Linked DNA regions of Homo sapiens. The protein of the gene in region 1 purifies or fractionates together with the protein of each later gene. This does not show direct contact. Each region holds a gene or a part of one and is shown in the gene's direction. Other genes may lie near its edges. The genes, in order: MTMR8, TAB1 and MADD.

Region 1 (3,774 bases):
ACTGGGTAATTTATAAAGAAAAGAAGTTTAATTGGCTCACCGTTCTGCAGGCTGTACAGGAAGCATAGTGGCTTCTGGTTCTGGGGAGGCCTCAGGAAACTTCCAGTCATGGTGGAAGGCAAATGGGGAGTGAGGCACTTCACATGGCCAGAGCAGGAGGAAAATGGGCAGGGAAAGGTGCCACACACTTCTAAGCCATCAGATCTCGTGAGAACTCACTCACTATGGCAACGACAATACCAAGGAGGCTAGTGTTAAACCATTCAGAAGAAACCACCCCCATGATCCAATCACCTCCTACCAGGCCCCACTTCCAACGTAAGGGATTACAATTAAACATGAGATTTGGTGGGGACACAGATCCAAGCCATATCCAGGAGTAAGGGTTTAACTTGTGGAAGAGATCAAGATAACCAAAAGAAAGAAAATAGAAGAGGAATGAGGATAGAAGCCAGGAAAATGGCTTAAAAAAAAGAGAAAGTTGCTGGGAAGGAGTCAGAGAAGGAACAGTTGGGGATGCAGGCAGTGAGTTTGTTTATAATAAAGGTCAAGGGAAGAAAGAATGTCAAAAAGGAATATGAATCAATAGTTTTAAATGCTGTAAAACAAATAGAAAACGAGCACTGAGAAGAGCTGTTGGAATCAGCAGCTGGAATTTAGGATGATGTGAAAGAGCCAATTGAGTGGAGTGGTAGGGAGGAGTGAGTTTGTTATGGAGAAGTGAAGGTGATGATAAGTAGACTATTCTTTTGAGATATTTGGCAGTGAAAGGGCTGAACATGATGGAACGATGGTACAAGGGAGAATAGGGTCATGGATCGAGGGAAGGGCCTTCAGGCTAGGGAAGAAGGCAGAATATGATAAACGAGTAATTTTGCTAGCAAATGTTATAAGAACTCAAAGAAGAACAAAATTATTTTGTAGGGGCAGTGAGATTGCAAACCATAACACTGCAATAGTAGAGCTAGAAATTACCCTGAGATAGTGGCCAATACCCTCATTGTAACCTTGGTCAACTTAAGACCCAGAGAGGTGGCATGATTTCCCCAAGGTCACATAGCAAGTTAGTGGCAGACCTGAGAGGAGTAGAATCCAGATTTCCCAACTCTCAGATTGTTCTTTTTTCCACCACAAATCTGACTTGGAGCACACCACTGAGGGTCTGCACCTATTTACCCCTCATCTGATAGCTGGTCCAGTGGGCCCTTTCTTGGTCCTCTTCCCATATCTACGATGGCAAAAGTGATGAGGATACTGTAGTATTCCAGATTTTAACTAGGTTGATGGCAGCAGACACATAAAGGAGAGATAGAGAGGAGGATATACCTTTCCATATTTCAAAAAATATTCTCTGGTGACTTGCCCAAGGTCTCACAGCTAGGAAGCTCTTCAGAAACCCAATTGCCAGCATGGGGCAGCCTGTGTTACTGCTGCAGGATGCTATCATTGTAATATTAGAGTAAAGGAGTGATATCTGTGTTCAGAGCCCTTATAGCATCAAGAAGGGTGAGAAGGGTGGCAGTACTCGAATCTGGGACTTAAAGACTCGGCCAAACGTTGAACCTGAACCAGAATAATCAATTTCCCGAAGAAAAGGGCACTTGCCAGGAAGCAAGATGGCGGGAACGGCTACGGTCAAAGTGTCGCGATAGGAGCTTTCGCCGAGGATCAGGTGACGAGAGTTTGAGCCAGGACCGGGAGGGCGGGGGTAGAAACCCGGGTTGAGGCAGGAGGCGGCTAGACCGGTGGCGGCGGCATCTGGAGTAGCACTGAGATCTTCCGGTGGCGGGAACTGCAGTCATGGATCATATTACGGTACCCAAGGTAAGGAGAAGAGTTAAGCGAGGCTGACAGCCGCGAGCTTCCTCTTGGTGCTCACCTGGGAGCCCAGACACACCTCCTCAGCCTTCTCAGCCTTCTTTGACGCGTCTTTCCTGTGGGGGGTCCCGGGTTCTCTTTCTGGGTCCACACCCCCTTTCAACCAAACACCTCTTCTTAGGATCTGCTTGCGGGCGTCAGCGGCCGGGAAAGAGGTGGTCTGCACCACTGTCCCCTTACGCGACGCCGCCCCCGCTCCTGGTGCACGCCTGTTCTGGCCCTCTGACTCCAGCTCCTCCCTAGCCTTGACCTCACACTCACCCTTATCTCAGCTTTTTATACTAGCTGCACTTGTAACCGCCATTCGCGAATACCCCACATTGCTCTGCCTCCTGCGGAGTTACTTCCTTTATCGAGCGTTTCTTCACCATCCTCTTGGCTCCTCCAGCCACTAACCTTCCCCAGGGATTGCCCAGAACCCCACTCTCGCTCCAGCTCCACGGCATGCCTGTGAGGGTTTGTGGGGGCCACAGCATCTCTTCAGCCAAAGCTGGGCAATGGAAAAGGAAGAGGAGTGGGGCAGAGTGGATCTGGCTCTGCTCAGCCGGTAGGAGAAACCCAAGAGGTTTATCTAGCCAGTTGTCACCTGTTTTTAGCCAGTCCCGAGTTAGAGTTACTTCTGCTACTTTTTCCTCTCATCTTTCCAGATCCTACTCCCTCCCTTCCCAACGCCAGCCCCTTTCTGTTTCAAATCCACTTCCCTCCTTTCTCCTGTCTGGGGCTGGGGAACAGTGAAAAATTCACAACTAGTCTGTGGTTATTTTTTCCTGTTGATCATAACACACGTGGTCCAGGCTAATTGAAGTCCTGGTAAAAAATCCAGCGTGTTTTTAATGGAAAGAGCATGGATTTTGAAGCCAGAAGACTTGAATTAAAGTGCTGCCCACTGCACCCCCACCAACTACTTAGCTAATGACTTTGGACAAATTATTTAACCTCTCTGAGCCTTAGCTTTCCTCACCTACTGATAGGGTTTTTCTCTGTGTCCCCACCCAAATCTCCTCTTGTAGCTTCCGTAATTCTCACGTGTTGTGGGAGGGACCCGGTGGGAGACGGTTGAATCATGGGGGCAGGGCTTTCCTGTGCTGTTCTTGTGATAGTGAATGGGTCTCATGAGATCTGATGGTTTTAAAAACGGGAGTTTCTTTGCACAGGCTCTCTCTTTGCCTGCTGCCATGCATGTAAGATGTGACTTGCTCCTCCTTGCCTTCCTCCATAATTGTGAGGTCTCCCCAGCCATGTGGAACTGTTAAGTCCAATAAACCTCTTTGGTAAATTGCCCAGTCTTGGGTATGTCATCAGCAGCGTGAAAACAGACTGATACACCTACCAAATGAGGATAATGAAATTTGCCCGGCTCACTTCACAAGATGGTTGTGGGATTAAATAAGAGGATGTGTGTGAAAGAGTTTTTGTAACTAGTAATGTTTTGCCCACTTTTTAGCATAAAACTTTGATGCTGCCTGATGGGCAAAGCACAAACTCCAACCTTTAACCTTTTTTTCTGACTCCCTCCTCTTCAGGGCCTTTCTCTGTGGAGGATAACCACATCCCGTGTAAAAGCCAGCCAGCCTTGCCTTTTTCTGTGTCCCTTTGTTTCCGGATCATGTCATTTGTACGGGTCCTCTGACATGGTATAAGAAGGTGGTACCATTAAAGGAAAGGAACTTCTGTTGTCCAGACTCCCTCTTCTCCCAACCCACCTAAGCTTGGGCCACGTTACTTGTCTAGTTCAAAATCAGCTCACTCGAATACTCCTTTTTTCTCTCTTTTGACAACTGGGGAAGATGGGGAGGCAGAACTGCTCCTGTCCTTGAGTGTTAAAATATTAAAATTCCCCTGTTAGGGATTGAAGCTATAAACTGGGCTGGCTCTATGGAAATTGGAAGGGAGAAG
Region 2 (3,696 bases), on another chromosome or scaffold:
GGCCTCAAGCAATCCGCCTGCCTGGGCCTCCCAAAGTGCTAGGATTACAGGTGTGAGCCACTGTGCCCGGCCACAAAGAGGTTCTAAGGAGAGCTTGATGTGTTCAAAAGGACCCAGACCTTTCAGCCGGATAAAACAGTGTTAGTCTCATACTGGCTTTGGGCAAATCACTTTATGTCCCTGAGCCTTAGTTTCTCCAAACCAAGAGGACTCTGGGGAGTATTGTTGGTGTTAAAGGAACTGACACATTCCACTACTAGCCTGGCTTGGTTGCCCGCTAACCAGAAACTTCTACCTTCAGTGCTGCCGTGAGTGAATGCTGTTCATTCCCTTAAATGTCCCTGAGCACTCACTATGTGCTAGGCACCCTGCAGGTGCAGGAGACACCGCCTTTGTGGAGCTGATGGTCTAGTAAAGGGGACAGACAGTGAGCACCGAACAGATACAGATCATCTGTGATTTTGTAATATCCAAACTACAGCATCAGGTGGTGCTATGAGGAACAGTCTAGATTCACACACAGAATGTTGGGGGTGCCATTTTGGACAGGGTGGTAAGGGAAGACTTCTCCACATTTGATGAGATGAAAACGGGGAAATGGGGGCAGCATTCCTGCCCAAGGGAGCAGGAGATGCAAAGGCTGCTGTTTCAGGAGCCTCAGGGGTGCTGGTGCAGCTGGGTGGAGTGCCTTGGGGGAGCTTGGGAGTAGCTGAGGTCTGAGGGAGCCGGGGGCCATGCTGGGCTTCACAGGTCCTGATGTGGCCTCTGGATTCCATTCTTCATGTGATGTGAAGCTTTCATGGGGAGCAGATTGAGTAGGGACCTGATGTGATGTGACTTTTGATTGGAGAAAAATCCCTCTTTTTTTTTTTTTTTTGAGACGGAGTCTCGCTCTGTTGCCCAGGCTGGAGTGCAGTGGCGCAATCTCAGCTCACTGCAAGCTCCGCCTCCCAGGTTCACGCCATTCTCCTGCCTCAGCCTCCCAAGTAGCTGGGACTACAGGCACCCACCACCACACCCAGCTAACTTTTTGTATTTTTTTTTTTAGTAGAGACGGGGTTTCACCGTGTTAGCCAGGATGGTCTCGATCTCCTGACCTCGTGATCTGCCAGCCTCGGCCTCCCAAAGTGCTGGGATTACAGGCGTGAGCCACCGTGCCCGGCCGAAAAATCCCTCTTTTGAGTTTGAGTGGTGAGAGTGGAAGCCTGGGACCTCCTAAGAGACTCCTAGAGTCATCCAGGTGCGAGAAGGTGTCTTGGCCATGGGGATGGCAGAAGAATGGTGGGAAGTATCAGATTCCAGTTGTGTTTTGGAGGAAGAGCTCATGTGATTTGCTGATGGATTGAATGTGAGGTGTGTGACAGAGGAAGAAGAGTCAAAAAGGACTCTTAAGGTTTTGGTTTAAACAACAGTGGTGCCATTTACGGGGTGAGGGAGCCCTGGAAGAGGGGCACCCTGGGGCAGGGGGAATCAAGAGTTTGATTTTGCCTGTACTGTTACTTAATTATAAAAAAGAAAATCAGGCTAGGCATGGTGGCTCATGCCTGGAATCCCAGCCCTTTGGGAGGCTGAGGCAGGAGGATCACTTGAGGCCAGGAGTTCCAGATCAGCTCGGGCAACATAGTGAGATTCAGTCTTTAAAAAAATTAGTGAGGCATGGTGGTATGTGCCTGTAGTACTTAGGAGACTTAATGGGGTGATTGCCTGAGCCCAGAAGTTTGAGGTTGTAGTGAGGCTATGATCCCCTCACTGCACTCCAGGCTGGGTGACACAGCAAGACCTGTTTAAAAAAAAAAAAAGAAAGTAAGCTTAAAATCAATTTTTTAAACTTCGACATGTCCTGAGCAATTATATCTGAGATCATAGGTGCTGCTATCTGTGTAATTTATCTAAAGGATGTTAAAATAAATACATAGCCACTAAAATAAAAAGGTCCATGGGGGTACCACCTATACCCATTGCATACACCCAGCTGCTGCCCTAGCACATTGGAAGTGCCAACAATGATTATTAGCCCCTTTAAGAATGAATGAGGAGCTCTTTAGGATGACGACATGGAGAACCTTCAATGAAAACTCCGGTGGGAGAAGTGGGGGCCAGGAGTGGAGCTGGTCTCAGAGAAGTGGGTCATCCGGAAGGTTGGAGGTGGTGGGGGCATTGGGGCCTTGGAAGCTTTTTGGAGAGAAAGGTCTGCTGCTCCCCTGCTCCGAGCCCTCTTCCTGGGGTTGTGAGTCTCCCTTTCTGAGCTTCCTTTTTGCTTCTAAGGAATGTGGGTGCTTTTACCACAAAAACACTTGGCCTTTTCATAGCATAATTTGGTATTCAAGCTGTGGCCTGAGCTTGGAACCATTCTTTGTCCATTTCTGCTGCCCAGGACTTTGAGATGAGTCTGTGTGGGTACTTTGTGAACTATTATGTGACATGGACACATATATACATGAGGAGTGAATGCTTACATCATGCACAGGGTGTTTGTAAAGGCCTTGTTGGGTTAAATACTGTTGGATCACTGTAGAAGCTTTTCATACCGAAACATTAATTTTGGAAACTCCTTCACAAAATCAAATCAAAATTAGGTCTTTTGAAACAGGCTTCTTAACGTATTCTTGTGAAATTTCTCATGAGCAGTTCATTTCTCAGACATGGAAGAGTTAAGTCCTGCGTTCGCTGTTGTGTGTGTTGCAGTGGCTCCGCGATGAGGCTGTGCTGAGTGAGAGACGCCCCCTTCTCAGCTTCTCGCAGACTCTTGCTCCCTGCGCTCCAGCGCCGCTCACGGCTGGTGCTGGCAGGCCTGGCATTTGGGGGCGTGGGAGAAAGTATGCATCAGTGTGTGCAGGGGTGGAGGGGTGGGTGGTTTGTGTGAATAGAAAGTACATGACCTTTCTGAAAATTGTTCAGAAATGTGGAGGAAGGAAGCGAGAGACTTGGCAGTCCTGTAGGCTTTAATGGAATCAGCAATGGACGCTCGGTATGGCTAATCCTCGATGGAGATGGAAAGGGACGGGAGAACACGATCCAAGCCTACTCAGCTGCAGCAGCGTGAGTCCGCTGGGGAACACGGAGAAGACCAGATACTCTCACTCCCACTTGGTAGAACCTCCTGAGGTTCTCCGGCCACTGTAGTGAACCAGTGTCTGGCGAGCGCCCGAATTACGTGAGAAACTGCCCATGTGTCATTGGATCTAAGACACCAATGTTTTAAGGACACGTCAGTGTTTTGTCTATTGCTCAGAAAGAGAACTCACAGCTAATTAACTTGTAACATACCAACTCCAGAGACGTTAACATGTGGAAAATGTAGGTCTTCAAATCAGTGAAATAAGGTAATCTAATTAACAATACCAGGCTATAGCACAATGGTTGCCACAGGGCCACTTTGGGAGGCCAAGGCGTGTGGATCACAAGGTCAGGAGTTCAAGACCAGCCTGGCCAAGATGGTGAAACCACGTCTCTACTAAAAATACAAAAAATTAGCCGGGCATGGTGGCACGCACCTGTAATCCCAGCTACTCCAGAGGCTGAGGCAGAGAATTGCTTAAACCTGGAGGGGCAGAGCTTGCAGTGAGCCAAGATCGCGCCACTGCACTCCAGCCTGGGCGACAGAGTGAGACTGTCACCAAAAAAAAAAAAAAAAAAAAAGGAATCATTTGAGTGAAAGATAGTTTCTTGAAGATGGTCAGTGGATGATTGAGGTTT
Region 3 (3,774 bases), on another chromosome or scaffold:
TTTTACATCAAGCTGAATGTAGATTGTTGAAACAGAATAATTAAGTTTCCATCTAGACCTAGAAGTGCAGGTTAGTGCTAGCTAGTTGAGGAGTCTGGTTTGATCCTGATCCACCCTGGAGGGATCCTGAGAGTGACTTCAATTTTTGTTACAATGACTGAGTCCAGATTAGATGGCCTAGGTCTGTTTTTCAGAAACAGAGCCCCAGGCGTTAAGCTGGAAATTAAGTCATTGGTAGGGATAGGTAGGTGAACCATTATTTATCTACATTTTTTTTTTTTTCTTGAGACGGAGTCTCACTCTGTCACCCAGGCTCGAGTGCAGTGGTGCGATCTCAGCTCACCACAGCCTCCACCTCCTGGGTTCAAGCGATTCTCATGCCTCAGACTCCCGAGTAGCTGGGATTACAGATGTGTGCCACCACACCCGGCTAATTTTTTTGTATTTTTAGTAGAGATGGGGTTTTGCCATGTTGGCCAGCTGGTCTCAAACTCCTGACCTCAGGTGATCCGCCTCGGCCTCCCAGAGTTCTGGGATTACAGGCGTGAGCCACCATGCCTGGCCTATCTATTTTTTAACATTCGATTCTGTGAGCTCATGAGCCTAGACACGAGGCTAGGCAAGCGTCAAGTTCTCCTATCATTAGTATGAAAGTGGAAGACCTTCTGACCTCTGCCTCTGGCCGGGAAGAAGTTGAGAGGGATGAGTCCCTTAGGCACAGCAGTGGATCTTATCAGTACTTTTTTTCCTATTAGACTTCGATTTTCAGAATTCCTCCTGGGAATGCTGACTCCTTGCTTGGTGCCCTGATGCTTCTCTGAGATAAACTGATGAATTGGAACCATGGTGCAAAAGAAGAAGTTCTGTCCTCGGTTACTTGACTATCTAGTGATCGTAGGGGCCAGGTAACCAAGAAGAGATTGACTTTTGTCTTAATATCTGGGATAGCCATAAAATCTGCAGTTGTTCCCTTCTCCGATTTCCATGTTGCTTTGCATAGCTCATCTTCTCCTGTTATTTTACCCTGATGGGAGCATCGAAGCCAGTAGGGAAAAAACAAAATCAGGTGGATTGAAAGCAAAACCCTGCTCTTAACTAACATCTTCTTGATGTCGAGCAAATATACTCTTTATACCTCAGTTTTCTTATTTTGTAAAAAGAAAAAGTACATTATAAGCTACTCCTCTATGTATACTTTTTTGGTAATTTATTAGTTAATTCACTTTAAAAGATGTTAATCATCTTAAGGTGCCAGTGATAATTTTATTGTCAAAATCTCCCCTTCGTTTCAGAATAGATGCCTTCATGACAGTGTAGACTTCACTTAGGTTACCAGCTCCATGCGGCAGGCAGCACCCATATTTTCCAAGGTGTTACAGTCAGGTTACTTTATCCAAAATAGCATCTTGAGCTTTATTTGTTGACTGTGGTTAAAATTTGATAGCCCATTCCATCCCTTCAGGCTGCTGAATTTGTCTTTATGTTCTTCAGGCACCCGAGCAGTGATAGCGTGGCCCAGACTCCTGAATTGCTACGGCGATACCCCTTGGAGGATCACACTGAGTTTCCCCTGCCCCCAGATGTAGTGTTCTTCTGCCAGCCCGAGGGCTGCCTGAGCGTGCGGCAGCGGCGCATGAGCCTTCGGGATGATACCTCTTTTGTCTTCACCCTCACTGACAAGGACACTGGAGTCACGCGATATGGCATCTGTGTTAACTTCTACCGCTCCTTCCAAAAGCGAATCTCTAAGGAGAAGGGGGAAGGTGGGGCAGGGTCCCGTGGGAAGGAAGGAACCCATGCCACCTGTGCCTCAGAAGAGGGTGGCACTGAGAGCTCAGAGAGTGGCTCATCCCTGCAGCCTCTCAGTGCTGACTCTACCCCTGATGTGAACCAGTCTCCTCGGGGCAAACGCCGGGCCAAGGCGGGGAGCCGCTCCCGCAACAGTACTCTCACGTCCCTGTGCGTGCTCAGCCACTACCCTTTCTTCTCCACCTTCCGAGAGTGTTTGTATACTCTCAAGCGCCTGGTGGACTGCTGTAGTGAGCGCCTTCTGGGCAAGAAACTGGGCATCCCTCGAGGCGTACAAAGGTACAGTTTGCTGCTGATGCCTAATGGGGGAAGCATTTAGAGATTCCATGTAATTGGTCTTTGAGGGGCATAGGAAATTTCCTCTACAGCTCAAGGTCCTTCAGACCTATTAAGCATATTTAGAGTATTTAGAGTTAATCTTTTTTCTTTTGGAGACAGTCTCGCTCTGTTGCCCAGGCTGGAGTACAGTGGTGCGATCTCGGCTCACTGCAACCCCTGCCTCCTGGGTTCAAGTGATCCTTCTGCCTCAGCCTCCCGAGTAGCTGGGATTACAGGTGCACGCCACCATGACCAGCTAATTTTGGTATTTTTGTAGAGACAAGGTTTCGCCATGTTGGCCAGGCTGGTCTCAAACTCCTCACCTCAGGTGGTCCACCCACGTTGGCCTCCCAAAGTGCTGGGATTATAGGCGTGAGCATCATCCCCAGCCAAGAGTTAATCTTTACTAAGCAAAAGACTGCTGCAGAGTTAGACCTCTTTCCAAAATTGTGTTTGGAGTAATGCTGGAATTTGGTGTTTTAACTGTGGTTAGGACAGTAAGTCTTACCCAGTATATATCTTTACATTTGCTTTTGCCATTGTATATACTTTCCGGTCCTATCTGAGCTCAGAGACTGGGCTTTCTTAATGATGCTCCGTTTCCCATTGTCATCATTAGAGCCTCTGTGGTGATACTGAGTTGCAGTAGGGTATCAGCTTCTGATGCTAATGTGTCTGATTCCTGCTGTCTGCTTCTCAGGGACACCATGTGGCGGATCTTTACTGGATCGCTGCTGGTAGAGGAGAAGTCAAGTGCCCTTCTGCATGACCTTCGAGAGATTGAGGCCTGGATCTATCGATTGCTGCGCTCCCCAGTACCCGTCTCTGGGCAGAAGCGAGTAGACATCGAGGTCCTACCCCAAGAGCTCCAGCCAGCTCTGACCTTTGCTCTTCCAGACCCATCTCGATTCACCCTAGTGGATTTCCCACTGCACCTTCCCTTGGAACTTCTAGGTGTGGACGCCTGTCTCCAGGTGCTAACCTGCATTCTGTTAGAGCACAAGGTGAGAGGCAAGCTTCCTAGACCTTTCTAGGGGAGAAACTCTTAAATATGCCAGTGGCCAGACCACGAGCTCTTAGAGGACAGGGACTACATATTTTTCACCTTTTTGTCTTCAGGAGGTAACATGATGCCTGGTAAACAGCAGGTGTTCCGTAGATGTGGGTTGAATTAAGATACTGGTATCATGTGGGATGTATTTAGAGGGTTTACCATTCATTAGGGCTTATCCTTAATTGTACTGACCTAATTCTTTGGAAATATCAGTAGTTCTGTTTCAGTGAGTGGTCCTGGGATGGGCAGTACAAGAACTAGGAAGGTAAGGGAGTGATTTGCATATCTCAGGTGACTGAGGATCACCATTGTGCCTGGATTGGGAGGTGGCAGGCATGGTGGGGCAGGGGGCAGTGGGAGAGACAAAGCTGGAGCTGTAGGCTCGATGAAGTGGAAACCAAGTTGTAATGTTGGAAGCTGTTTTCTTGTAAACCATATTTTATGTTTTGGAGTGATTCTTACTGGATGGCTCATGACAGGTGGTGCTACAGTCCCGAGACTACAATGCACTCTCCATGTCTGTGATGGCATTCGTGGCAATGATCTACCCACTGGAGTATATGTTTCCTGTCATCCCGCTGCTACCCACCTGC

What was found.
Region 2: the proteins of MTMR8 (region 1) and TAB1 purify together in Homo sapiens (affinity purification with mass spectrometry, with the first as the bait; 2 studies listed by BioGRID). This does not show direct contact.
Region 3: the proteins of MTMR8 (region 1) and MADD purify together in Homo sapiens (affinity purification with mass spectrometry; 2 studies listed by BioGRID and IntAct, with this or other methods). This does not show direct contact.

What each region holds. Positions count from the first base shown.
Region 1 is NC_000023.11:64,393,390-64,397,163, reverse strand, and holds the start of MTMR8 (phosphatidylinositol-3,5-bisphosphate 3-phosphatase MTMR8), read left to right. Parts: upstream 1-1,711; 5' UTR 1,712-1,800; coding exon 1,801-1,824; intron 1,825-3,774. UniProt on the Homo sapiens protein: Lipid phosphatase that specifically dephosphorylates the D-3 position of phosphatidylinositol 3-phosphate and phosphatidylinositol 3,5-bisphosphate, generating phosphatidylinositol and phosphatidylinositol 5-phosphate.
Region 2 is NC_000022.11:39,402,780-39,406,475, forward strand, and holds part of TAB1 (TGF-beta-activated kinase 1 and MAP3K7-binding protein 1), read left to right. Parts: intron 1-3,696. UniProt on the Homo sapiens protein: Key adapter protein that plays an essential role in JNK and NF-kappa-B activation and proinflammatory cytokines production in response to stimulation with TLRs and cytokines.
Region 3 is NC_000011.10:47,273,072-47,276,845, forward strand, and holds part of MADD (MAP kinase-activating death domain protein), read left to right. Parts: intron 1-755; 5' UTR 756-843; coding exon 844-905; intron 906-1,491; coding exon 1,492-2,088; intron 2,089-2,827; coding exon 2,828-3,131; intron 3,132-3,660; coding exon 3,661-3,774. UniProt on the Homo sapiens protein: Guanyl-nucleotide exchange factor that regulates small GTPases of the Rab family. Converts GDP-bound inactive form of RAB27A and RAB27B to the GTP-bound active forms.